Linked DNA regions of Homo sapiens: region 1 is linked to region 2. Evidence: fine-mapped expression QTL. A gene starts in region 2. The other region holds a variant in brackets. All regions are shown on one strand. Distances are from middle to middle. Region 1 overlaps SRPX2 (sushi repeat containing protein X-linked 2). Region 2 holds the start of PCDH19 (protocadherin 19).

The links.
Region 1: its variant is fine-mapped to the expression of PCDH19 in visceral fat (GTEx, PIP above 0.99). The same link has a PIP of 0.9 or more in atrial appendage, breast, esophagus muscle, gastroesophageal junction, ileum and left ventricle.

Annotation. Positions count from the first base shown.
Region 1 is chrX:100,647,303-100,652,674 of GRCh38, reverse strand. It overlaps SRPX2 (sushi repeat containing protein X-linked 2), which reads right to left. Exons shown (of 11, transcript NM_014467.3): 3 at 1,810-1,890. Among named protein-coding and RNA genes, the nearest start is that of SRPX2, 5.8 kb to the right of the region's middle. RefSeq lists a silencer at 2,529-2,823 and an enhancer at 5,189-5,372. The variant T/C (reference allele first, on the strand shown) is at 2,800.
Region 2 is chrX:100,408,318-100,413,642 of GRCh38, reverse strand. It overlaps PCDH19 (protocadherin 19), which reads left to right and starts at 3,370. Exons shown (of 6, transcript NM_001184880.2): 1 at 3,370-5,325. The coding sequence starts at 5,046.

The sequences.
Region 1 (5,372 bases), 240 kb before region 2:
TTTCTTTGCAATATTTGACACAATTTATCTCTTACCCCTTCCTTTCCTTAAAACTCTCTTCTCCTGTGGCTTCTGTAATATGACAGGTACTGCCCAGATATCTTCCTACATGACTGACCACTAATTCTCTTTTTTTCCCCTTGCTGGTTCCTCTTCTCCTACTCATGTCTACAGATGTCTTCTAAAGCTCTGACCCTGGCCTTCTGCTCCCTCAGACAACCCATCTATCTAAGCTGATGACTCACACAACTTCATCCTTCCGCCGCCTGTAGGGCATCTTTACCAAACCAGTTTTCTTTTTTGACATTGTCTTTCTGAGAGGGGTCTTATTTCTTCCAGGTGTACAGACTGAGTGCTTTCAGACATCAGTTTGTTTCTTAGCCTCTTGGTACATCAAGTCTGTACTAAGTCTTGTCATCTCTTTCTTTGAAACATTTATGGGGTTCATCTGTACCCTCCATTTCTTTGCCACCACCATCAGTCATCTCTAGCCAACATTACTGTAGCTGGTTCCTGGAGAGTCTCCCTGACTCAGACTTAACCACTGAACCCCTATTTCTGCATAGAATAATCAGGTTAATGTTCTAAAATGACAATTTACTGTGTCATGCCTCTGTGCAAAAACATGTGATGGGCTCCCTATAGATCCTAGTACAACAGCTAAACTCTTCCACATGGCTTGCAAAGCAAAGAAACAAAGAATCAGAAATAGAAGGGATATTAGATACCACCTGGCCTAACTTCCCTTTTAATGCAGGAATTACTCACTATGCAGCATTCATCACAGATAATTTTCATGCTTCTCATTAGTATTGTCCCTAGATCATGGAGTCTTTCCTAATTTGGTCTCACTCTTTATATTTAACTTTTTTTTTTTTTTTTTTTTGAGACAGAGCCTTGCTTTGTCACCCAGGCTGGAGAGCAGTGGTGCCATCTCAGCTCTCGGCTCACTGCAACCTCCACCTCCCAGGTTCAAGTGATTCTCCTGCTTCAGCCACCTGAGTAGCTGGGATTATAGGCACATGCCACCATGCCTGGCTAATTTTTTGTAGTTTTGTTGGAGATGAGGTTTCACCATATTCGCCAGGCTGGTCTCGAACTCCTGACCTCAAGTGATCCACCTATCTCGGCCTCCCAAAATGCTGGGTTTACAAGCATGAGCCACTGCACTTGGCCTATATTTAACCTTCTTTGATACTACTCCCTCCATATTCCATTTCCTCCAATCAGGCTGGTTTCTTCTTAGCTCCCTCCTCTACCAGGTTTGTTCTTACTTCCGTATTTTTAGCCATCTGCTTTGCTGAATGCTCTCCCCTCCCCTTTCTGGTTCTCAAAATCCCACCTATCATTCTAAGCTTAGCCTAAATGTCATCTTTCATGACCCTTTTCCTGACTTCTTTTTCTTAAACCCTATTGCATTTACTGCTATGACATAGCTTCACACTTACTTGCCCTACATGTGCTAACTTTATACCCCCCCATCACCCCCAACAGAATATAAGCTACATGATGGGGACAAAACCCTATCTGAGACCTTGTATTACCCACAGGCTTACCTTGCACAGGATTAGGCATTGAGTAACTAGTCAATACTTAATGATTAATAATACATGGAGAACCTTCAGGCTGGAGAGGTGAGGTCACACAGTAAGTCAGTAACCAAGTTCATGATGAGAAATCACAGCCCCTGATTCCCTGTGCTACAGTTTTGACACATGTGAGCCAAGCCTGATGGGGATGCTTCAGGGAAGGGCCTAGGTCTGAGGCCAGAAAAGAGATTTTCTGGGCTTGAGAAGCAGGGTAGATTACCTCGGTAGTCCAGGGCAGGAGCCTGTGGGACCTCCTCTGCATATACTTCATTGTAGCTTTCATCCGGATAGTAGCCAGAACCTAGAATAAGGAAGACAATATCAAAATGGTGTCTTGATTTCTCACTCAATTCCTTCCCAACCTTCCCCCTCTCATCCAACTTTGTCACTTCCTTAGGACATGGCATTCCATGGGTGGGGAGCCAGGTGGATATTTAGTGGGGGAAATCCTGCATTGTAAGGCAGCAGAACTACTGTGGGTGAATCTCAGCACCTCAGTTGCATAGAGGGCAGGCTCATAGTTGTGGTGGCCAGTTACTGCGAGCACTGGAAGACTCCATCTAAAAGAAAAAAATTGAACCTGACCATACATCAATCCTGTCAATCTGGACTATAAATGACCCATTTCCTTGAAGCAACACATGAGTCTTGGTAAGACACTGGGGACTAATCTCTGAGAATGGACTGTGGTCCCTGATAGGAGGCAAAAACAGAACCTGTGTCTTCCCCCTAGTGACAGCCCTGCTTATGGTCCTCAAAAAAAAACAATTACTCAGGCTTCCACTAGCCCACAGGGCACAGGCCTTTTTGTCATCGGATTACCGGATTACCATTGCTGGGGGTGGCATGCCAAGGCCGAGAGGGATGACTTAAAAGGCAAGAGGAAATGAAAGCAGTTTTGTGAGCACTTTGCCCTGGTTTGGAGAACAGAGAAGGCAGAGTCCTTCGGATAAATTTCCTGTTTCTCTAATCAGAAGGAACTTTAACAGGGAGCTGCTGAGCTAGAGAACATTCCTAATCTATCTCCATCCAGTTAAGTGGCCCAGTCCCTAGTGGAGGCAGGTCTGCGGCTGTCTGGGAGACTAAACAGTATGTTCCACCAGACGGCAGGAAATCGGTCATGAATACGAACTAATTGGAAAACAACTTGGTCCTTTCCGGAGTGAAGTTTCCGGAAGCCCTCCTTCCAGCCTCCCTGAGCCCTAATGCA[T/C]GCACAGGAATAGGGTAGCCAGCTGTTTTGGAGTCAAGAGACAATTCCCTATTTCCAGGAGAGGGTGTGCTTCCAGGACAGGGCTGGGTTTTAGTGCTGGAGCCCTTTGGCCTGTGTAAATACTCAGGCCACAAGCTCGCCTCCTCCTCTTGGGAAGAGGCACAGGGCCCCCTGCACTGAAGGGCGGAGCAGAGGGCCAGATGATGAAGCTCCTCCATTCCCCACAGGCCCAGACTAGGGGTGGGGGAGGTGAGGTATTGGGAAACCAGTCCAACTTGGTGAACAAGGGAATGAATCAATTGAAAGTTTGCCTTATGAAATCATGTCCTCGTTGGTTTGCCCTCATTCCAGAGGAAAGAGTTCATTTTTTCTTTTTCCCCTTTTTCTTTTTTTCTGTTTTCCCATTTCAGTTCTTCTTCTGGCTTCCGTTGATTTCTTCTCAGACCTCATCTCCCCTGCTCTCTTTTTTCCCATAATGGGAGGTTTCTTTGGTGGGTGCGGGGGAGTCGGGGGGCGGGTCATGGAATTTTTGTCAGCTGTTTCAGTTCAGTATTAGCCTCAAAGCTTTATAGGTCCTGTAAACAGGAGGCCAGATGTGGGTGATTCCCTAAAGTATTAGGTCTTCCTGCTCCGGTTACAGAGCCAGCTTTTGAAGACATGCTCAGCAGGGAGCAAAGGACTGTTTAACAGAAGAGAAAACAGGAGTGTCAGGAGTGTCAGAGCCCTGTGGCTTGGTAACAGTAACAACAACAAGAACAACTACGACAATGACTGCTAACATCTCTCAGCTCATATTCTGTGTTAAGCACATTACATATGTTAGTTCATTATGTCACCATAACATGTCAGCAGGGTAGGTACTACTAATGTGCTCCAATATAAAGCCGAAGAAACAGGCTTGAGGAACCAAGAGAACCAAGGTCTCCCAGCTAGTAAGCAGCAGAGTGGGCATTCCAGCCCAGGTCTGCTTGACCCCCTAGATACCAAACTCAGACACTCCACTGAAGATGGTGATTAGGGAAGAGCTTTTGATAATGTCCAACTGGGGTAAAAGTCCAAAATCTCTTTTGCAATCCAGCTTTTTTACTGTGTGTGTGGGATCGAAGGCCACCAAGCATTTTACATCATTCCAGAATTACAAGGGATGTAGGAAAACTGTGGGGAAGACTCAATAAGATAATTACAGTCTCCATCAGGGTGCGGAAGTAGCTGGACCAGTGCCAACTATGCTTTGTGTGGAGAAAGGGTTCAGACCATCTTGCCACTTTAAACCTTTCCATTTTCCCATTTCCCCTCTTTGCCTATCTTTGAGTTTTTTTTCTTTTTTGCAAATGGTGGAATACTAAGATGGGTATAAGAATGAAATTAAAGGGGAACATTTCCTACATTATTCTGTCTGCTTGTCCCTCTTCAGCCCTGGGGGAAGGACTTGGGGAGCATTCCTCAGTTCCTTTAGATCAATCAGTGCTTGGTTACTGTGTGGTCTGTTACTGGGTTCCTCCAACCTCCATAGTACAGTCAGGCCCTCTAAGCACTGCCCTTCACAAAAGTATAGTTAGACATGTAATTGATAGTTAAAAGACTATCTTAAGATTCATATTAATCCTTGGCTTATGATGACAAATACAGTCTGACTTTCTGGGCTGCACAGATATGCCAGAACACACTTTTAACCCATTCTTTGCTTTATTTATATTCTTAACTTTTCCCAGCCACTGCTGATTATTCCTGGACCCTTTTTCTGATTAGCCCTGGATCCACATTTGGCTGCTATTCTGTGCCATGCCCATTTGAAGACAAGGCTGTACAAGTAAACAAAACTGTCCTGGATGCATAAAGAGTCCTCAATAAATATTTGTTGAAGGAATGAATGAACAAAGGCATGAAGGCAAGCCCAACAGCTGAGCTAGCAGTGTAGGGGAAATGTCTCTCATCATGTGGCCTCCTAAGGATAGAAGAGGGAAGAATGAGTGGAATTGCAGGGCTGGCAGAGGCCTCACCAATCTGAGCTTCTCAGGAGTGGTGACTTGTGATTCACGTGGAAGTGGGGTGTTCCACCTTTGCAAATAGCCCTTTGAGAACCTCAACTGAATCTAACTTTTAAAAAACTGCTCTGTGCTCACGCCTCCAACAGCTCAGGCTTCTGTTTTGGGAAAGGTAAAGACCTTTGCATGCCATGAGGTTTCATACAGGTGTTCAGAATTGGGCTTCGAGCCATCTAATCTCCACTCCTTTAGTCCTGTGGTCTTTGGCTGGATTTTGGTCTCTGTAAATGAACTGAAGCAAGGGGAGGTTGGGGAGGACAGTTGCATATTTATCTCCTGGAGACTTGAGGCACCTTTAACCCCAAACAGGATATGCTCTGCCAAGGGCTTGACTTGAATTTTTTCATCTCAATGTCAGTCCTTGTGCTTCACCCCCTACAAAGCCAGGTTAAGCCAAAAAGGGGAAGAAGTTTGCATATTTGTTTGAAAGCTTGATGCAGCTGTTCCAGACAAACAGAGCTACTGCCAAAGGCCTCCACCAGGAGCTAAGGGCATGTGGAAAATTTTAGCTGCAGGGACTGTGGCTGT
Region 2 (5,325 bases):
TGATCTAAAAGTAAGATTTCTCCCATTTTGGTCCTCTTTTATTGCCATTCAGCATGATTTTAGTGGCATGGATGACATTTTAAAGACAAAAAAAATTCTCTTTGCCAATTTTGATTCTGGCCTCAGTGGAGCTGCTTTGACCTGGAGAGCAGCCGTAGGCGGCATAGCACCATTAGTATTAGTATTTCTTAGTAGCTGTTGGATTAAAAAATACTGAGGATGGTCACTAGATGTCCCTCTTGTGTCTCTAAAGAGGCTGAGGAGGCGGGGCTCCCTTCAGGATTGAAGTAAAGGGAAGCTAAAACGGAGAGAACTTTCTTGTTTTTATTATCTACATGCAGAACGATTTTATTCAGTTAGTTAATAAATTCCTGATCATGAAAGTGTTTTGGGCTACTCATTTAGTCAATGGCATTCTTGGAGTATAATGATCGAGTGTGCCTATTAGAAAAAAAGAAATTCTGAGGGCAAAGGCTGTTGTTAGGATTATCTGTAGAAATAGACTGGGGGATGGAAGAGCTATTTTGTGTGTGGGGATGGGGAAGGCTGTGTAACTGTCACTTTGAGATTAGGGGTGGGGAGGAGATAATAGGAAAGAAGGAAAGCATAGGCACACGCCCCTGCCTCCCTTAGCACCTGGCTTGTGTAAAAGTGGTTTGGTAGCTGGAAGTACTTGGATGCTCTCCTTGGAAAAGAGGGGTGCCTGGAGTGTGAACAGCGAGCAGGAAGCAGGGAACACGGTGGCATCGCCTTAGCAAAGAGGGTTTGTCTTTGCAAATGCAGAACATGTCTTTACATTGTGATTGCAATTATGAAGGTAATGACATTGTACATGAATTGAATTCTCCTATTTATCTTTAAAAGACAGCAGAATATAGACATTCTATTAGCACTCCCTAAGGTAAGAGGTCTGCAGTCTTCTTATCTTGTTGTGTGCATCTTTTCAGATGCTACGACAATGTTAATCATTTTACCTGAGTAATTCTTCCATTTCTCGTTACCTGGGGGATTGTTAATGGCCGAGACTACTTCTCAGACTCTTTGCTCCCGCTCAATCAAGCCGTGGAGGCGCCAGTTTACTTTTATTGATCAGTGGGTTCCTGACAGCCTTCGCCACAAGGAAGCAGCATCATCCTTTTTTAACTTAAAGGGGGAACAGATCGCCTTAAAGTTTACAGCTAAAAGCTTCTAAGCATAGCATGCAAACATTTTAGCATGCTGCTAATTGTTCTGTTTAAATAGTCCAAGCAATATTTTAGAAAGCTGCCAAACGCCGAATTCACATCCCGTGATCAGATAGCAAACCCATTTCAAATGCCTTTTTAGGCCTTTTTAATTAGACCAAGATGCACTTCATTCCCATGCTCTGACATCAAAGGTAAATAACTGTGATAAATCAAATGGAACCCTTCCTTTCGCGGAGCCCGCGAGGTGCGCCCACCGCTGCCTGCCATGTTGTCATTCTCTACTACTTGCCCATTTCTCCAACGGTGTCTGGAGAAAACCGGTCGGGCCACCGGGCTCCCTTGAGCCACCACTCTGGTGTCCACCCGCAGCTCTAAATGACCAAAATTAAATGATACTCATTGCAGAAGCATCGGTTTTCTCCCTGTTGTTCTGGGCCGAATCACATCCTAACGTGAAACAGTGAAACGACCCCCACGCGGAAAGCGGATCAGGCTCCCTACGCTCTCCCTTTGGCCTCGGCTACATATTCAGGGGATCGCAATCTCACTCGCGAAATAATTTCTTTCTGTAAGAGGAAGCCGCCTTTCCCCTCTCCCACCGCCAAGGTAAAGGCTGCTAAAGTAGCTCTTCTTGGAAGGAAAAATATTTTAAAAAGCAGCTGGGTTGCTCTCCACAAGAAGATGGCAGTTTTGAGAAAACCCATTATGTGTCCAAATGCCGGTTTCCTTTTCTTGTTTAACGCTTTTTAGAGGGCAAAAATGACGCTCATGTGAAGCCCACAGGCTCGAGCCAATGTCGCTGGGCTAATTATGAGTCTGCTTATCCCACTCCCAAATATCCGAGACGACTCACTCAGAAGACATTTTTACTCTTCCAAGAATTGTGAATTCAGAAGCAGCTTCCCCACATTCTAAGAGAAAAAAAAACTTGTTTAACGGGCACGTTTTTGATTTTTTTGCCGCTGGCGACCTTAATTAAAAGCCTCAGAGCCCGGGTGGGGAGGAATGCCCCGCTGCCCCCAGGGAGCCTTCAGTGCAGAAGGCAGGATGAGCTTGATGTCAGCCCTGGCCACGCCGGCCTCCCGCTTCCCAGTACTGGCACATGCCGCAGCCACCACCGCCGCCCAAGTGGAGCTGGCAGCCCCCTGGGACCGAGACCCCGCGGGAAGGCTGGGGCGCCCTGCACATCGGCGCCGGCTCCCAGCTGTCGGCGACCTAAGCGGACATGTATGGCGTGCCCGCCCCAGAGCTCCTGCCCGGCTTTGAGCTCTGCTGGCTTGGCGCGGCGCGGCGGCGTCCGCTCCACCGGCTCTTCTCAAACGTACAGTTTATTTATAGGGAGCTAAATTCTCCAACAGGGTGGGGTGAGGGGCAATGAAATGTGTCCGGCCCCCTCCGTAGCTCATTCTCTGTGCCACATATCCCATTTGATTAACAAGCAACAGACAAGAGCGAACCGATCCAGGGGCCCTGCTGGGAGTGCGGCACGCAGAGAGTAGTGCGGCGTCTGCCCGGGGTGGAAGGATGGGGGTGACGGTCCGGGGGGGTGGCGGCCGTGGCTCTGGCCTGATGTGAAGACACACCGGCTAAGAGCTGGATGAATGACCACCTCAGGGGCGCTTTCTCCTTCCCTTTCTTCCTTCCACTACCAGAGAATGAGAAGAGAGGAAAACAAAAACAGACGATTTTTTAGGGTGAAGAGACAAGGAGAAATAGAGGGATATATATATGTGTGTATATATATATATATGTGTATATATATGTATATATTATATTCAAGATATGAAGATATGTAAGGGAGGTAAACACGATAAGACAATCATATCATCCTCATCTTTCCTGAAATCTCTGCAAACATGAGAAGCGCACAGTTCCCGGCGAGGCTCAGCCGCAGCGCCAGCACACCGCCTCCCTGCTCATTCCTGCCCTATTGCTCCTGCCTGGCCTGCCTGGCCTGTCTGTCCGTCCTCCCATGAATCCCGCCAGGGCTCCATGGGCCGGGGTACCACTTGGTCCCGCCGGTGTGAAGTTTCCGCTTGGCCCCGCCCCCCCGCTACCCCCCGCCTCCGCTTGGCCCCGCCCCAAGACTGGAGCCCGCTGGCGGCGCGCTGATTGGCCAGGGCCTGGCGTAGCCGGGCTCGGCAGCTTGAGCTTTCTCCGGCTTTCTCCAGACTCCGCGGCCAGTAGTTTGCGGCATCCGGAGGAGCAGCAGCAGCAGTAGCGGCGGCGGCTGGCGCAGCGCGGAGACGGACGAGCGGGCACAGACGGCAGCACAGCTCCCGTGCACCATGCCTGGCTTGCCCGGGAGGCACTGGCACCCGCGTCCCTAGCCCGGCGCTGGCCCTTGGCGCGTTGCGCTCCGCAGCATTCCGGCTGAGCGATTTCATCCGAAATCCTAAACCTCCTACCCCAAACCCATTGCCTCCTGCTTGCTCATACTCCACACTCACACTCCCCACACCACACACTCACTCTTCCTCTCTCTCTCACACATTCACACACAGCCCGAGACAGACAGAGAAAGCGAGACAGACCTCCCGAGTGCGCGAGCGCCCGGGAGGAAGGGAGCCCAACGCAGCGCGGCCAGCGCCTCTCCGGGAAGATGAAATCAAGACGCTCCTGCAAGTAAACTTCGGCGGCGACAAAATCGTCGACTGTGGCAGCTGCTGAGGCGGACCCCAGCGACGTGCAACTGAGCTAGGAGGGCTTCCTCCCGCGGCGGCGGCGGCGGCGGCGGCGGCGGCGGACCTTGGAGCGACACCCCAGCCCAAACGGAGAGAAGAGAAGCACCCGGTACCCACGGCGGCGGCCCCGCCTCTCCTGGCCGGTACTGTTGTTGCCTCCCCTTCCCTCTTCCCCATTCCCCGCCACCCCCGGCCATTAGAAAGACCGGGGCTTTGATTTTCTTGGACAAATTGCCATCTCCCCGTTTCCACAAACTTGACGTGGAGGGTCGGACTGCGTTGTTAACTTTGATTTCCTAGACGAAAACGCCCGCAGACCCTCAACTGCTCTGTGGGGGGAACTCCGCTCCCACCTCGGATCCTGGACAGACGCGCCCCCAAGCCCTTCGAAGCCAGCCTTAGCGCGAGGGAGCGCGCTCAAGCTCTGGCAGCCTCTCTCCCCTCCCCCTTCCTCTGCTGGCCCCGGGACCGCCATCCGACTCAACCCTATAACCGGGTGCCCGCGGCGCTTGCCAGTAACTGACTCCCGTCTGCGACACCCCCTTTCTCCCGAACAGGCCTCGAAGAGGCCAGTGTGGCCCCCCCAGACCCCGGAGGGCGCATTCCAAGCGGGTACTCTCTCCGCAGTGAACTGGGAGCGCTGGGGGGAGGTCTTTGCGCATGCCAGGTGCACAGACAGCGAGTTCGCCAGCCTCAGTGCCGGTGCACCGCGGCGGGCCGGGCAGTGCCTGAAAGGCTGCGCCTCCTCCGCCCTCTTTACCTTCGCCTCAAGTACTGTCCGGACTCAGCGGTGCGTCCTCCAGGCCGCGCAGACGCCGCCCGACCCGCAGCCCTGGGCGGCTGCCGACAGTCGCGCCCGGCTAACTTTGAAGGGGTAAAACTGAGTAGCCGGGCTGGAGGGAGGGGGCTCGGGGCCGCGCGGCGCTCCCTTGGCCCCTCGGAGCCCCCGGGGCCCCCGCGAGCCCCCGCCGCGTCCGCCGCAACCTCAGCATTGGAGCCGCCGCGGGTGTCCCCCGCGCGCCGCCGGGCCGCCCTGGGCGGGACTTCTCCCGCGGCCTCCGGGGCCACGGGGCGCGCGCAACAGGCGGCCCGAGCCGGCGGGAAGCTGGAGCGCCGACGGCGTCGGTCTCGGAGGGGTGTGGAGAGGCGAGGCCAGGCAGAGCCCCGTGCAGCCATGGAGTCGCTCCTGCTGCCGGTGCTGCTGCTGCTGGCCATACTGTGGACGCAGGCTGCCGCCCTCATTAATCTCAAGTACTCGGTAGAAGAGGAGCAGCGCGCCGGGACGGTGATTGCCAACGTGGCCAAAGACGCGCGAGAGGCGGGCTTCGCGCTGGACCCCCGGCAGGCTTCAGCCTTTCGCGTGGTGTCCAACTCGGCTCCACACCTAGTGGACATCAATCCCAGCTCTGGCCTGCTGGTCACCAAGCAGAAGATTGACCGTGATCTGCTGTGCC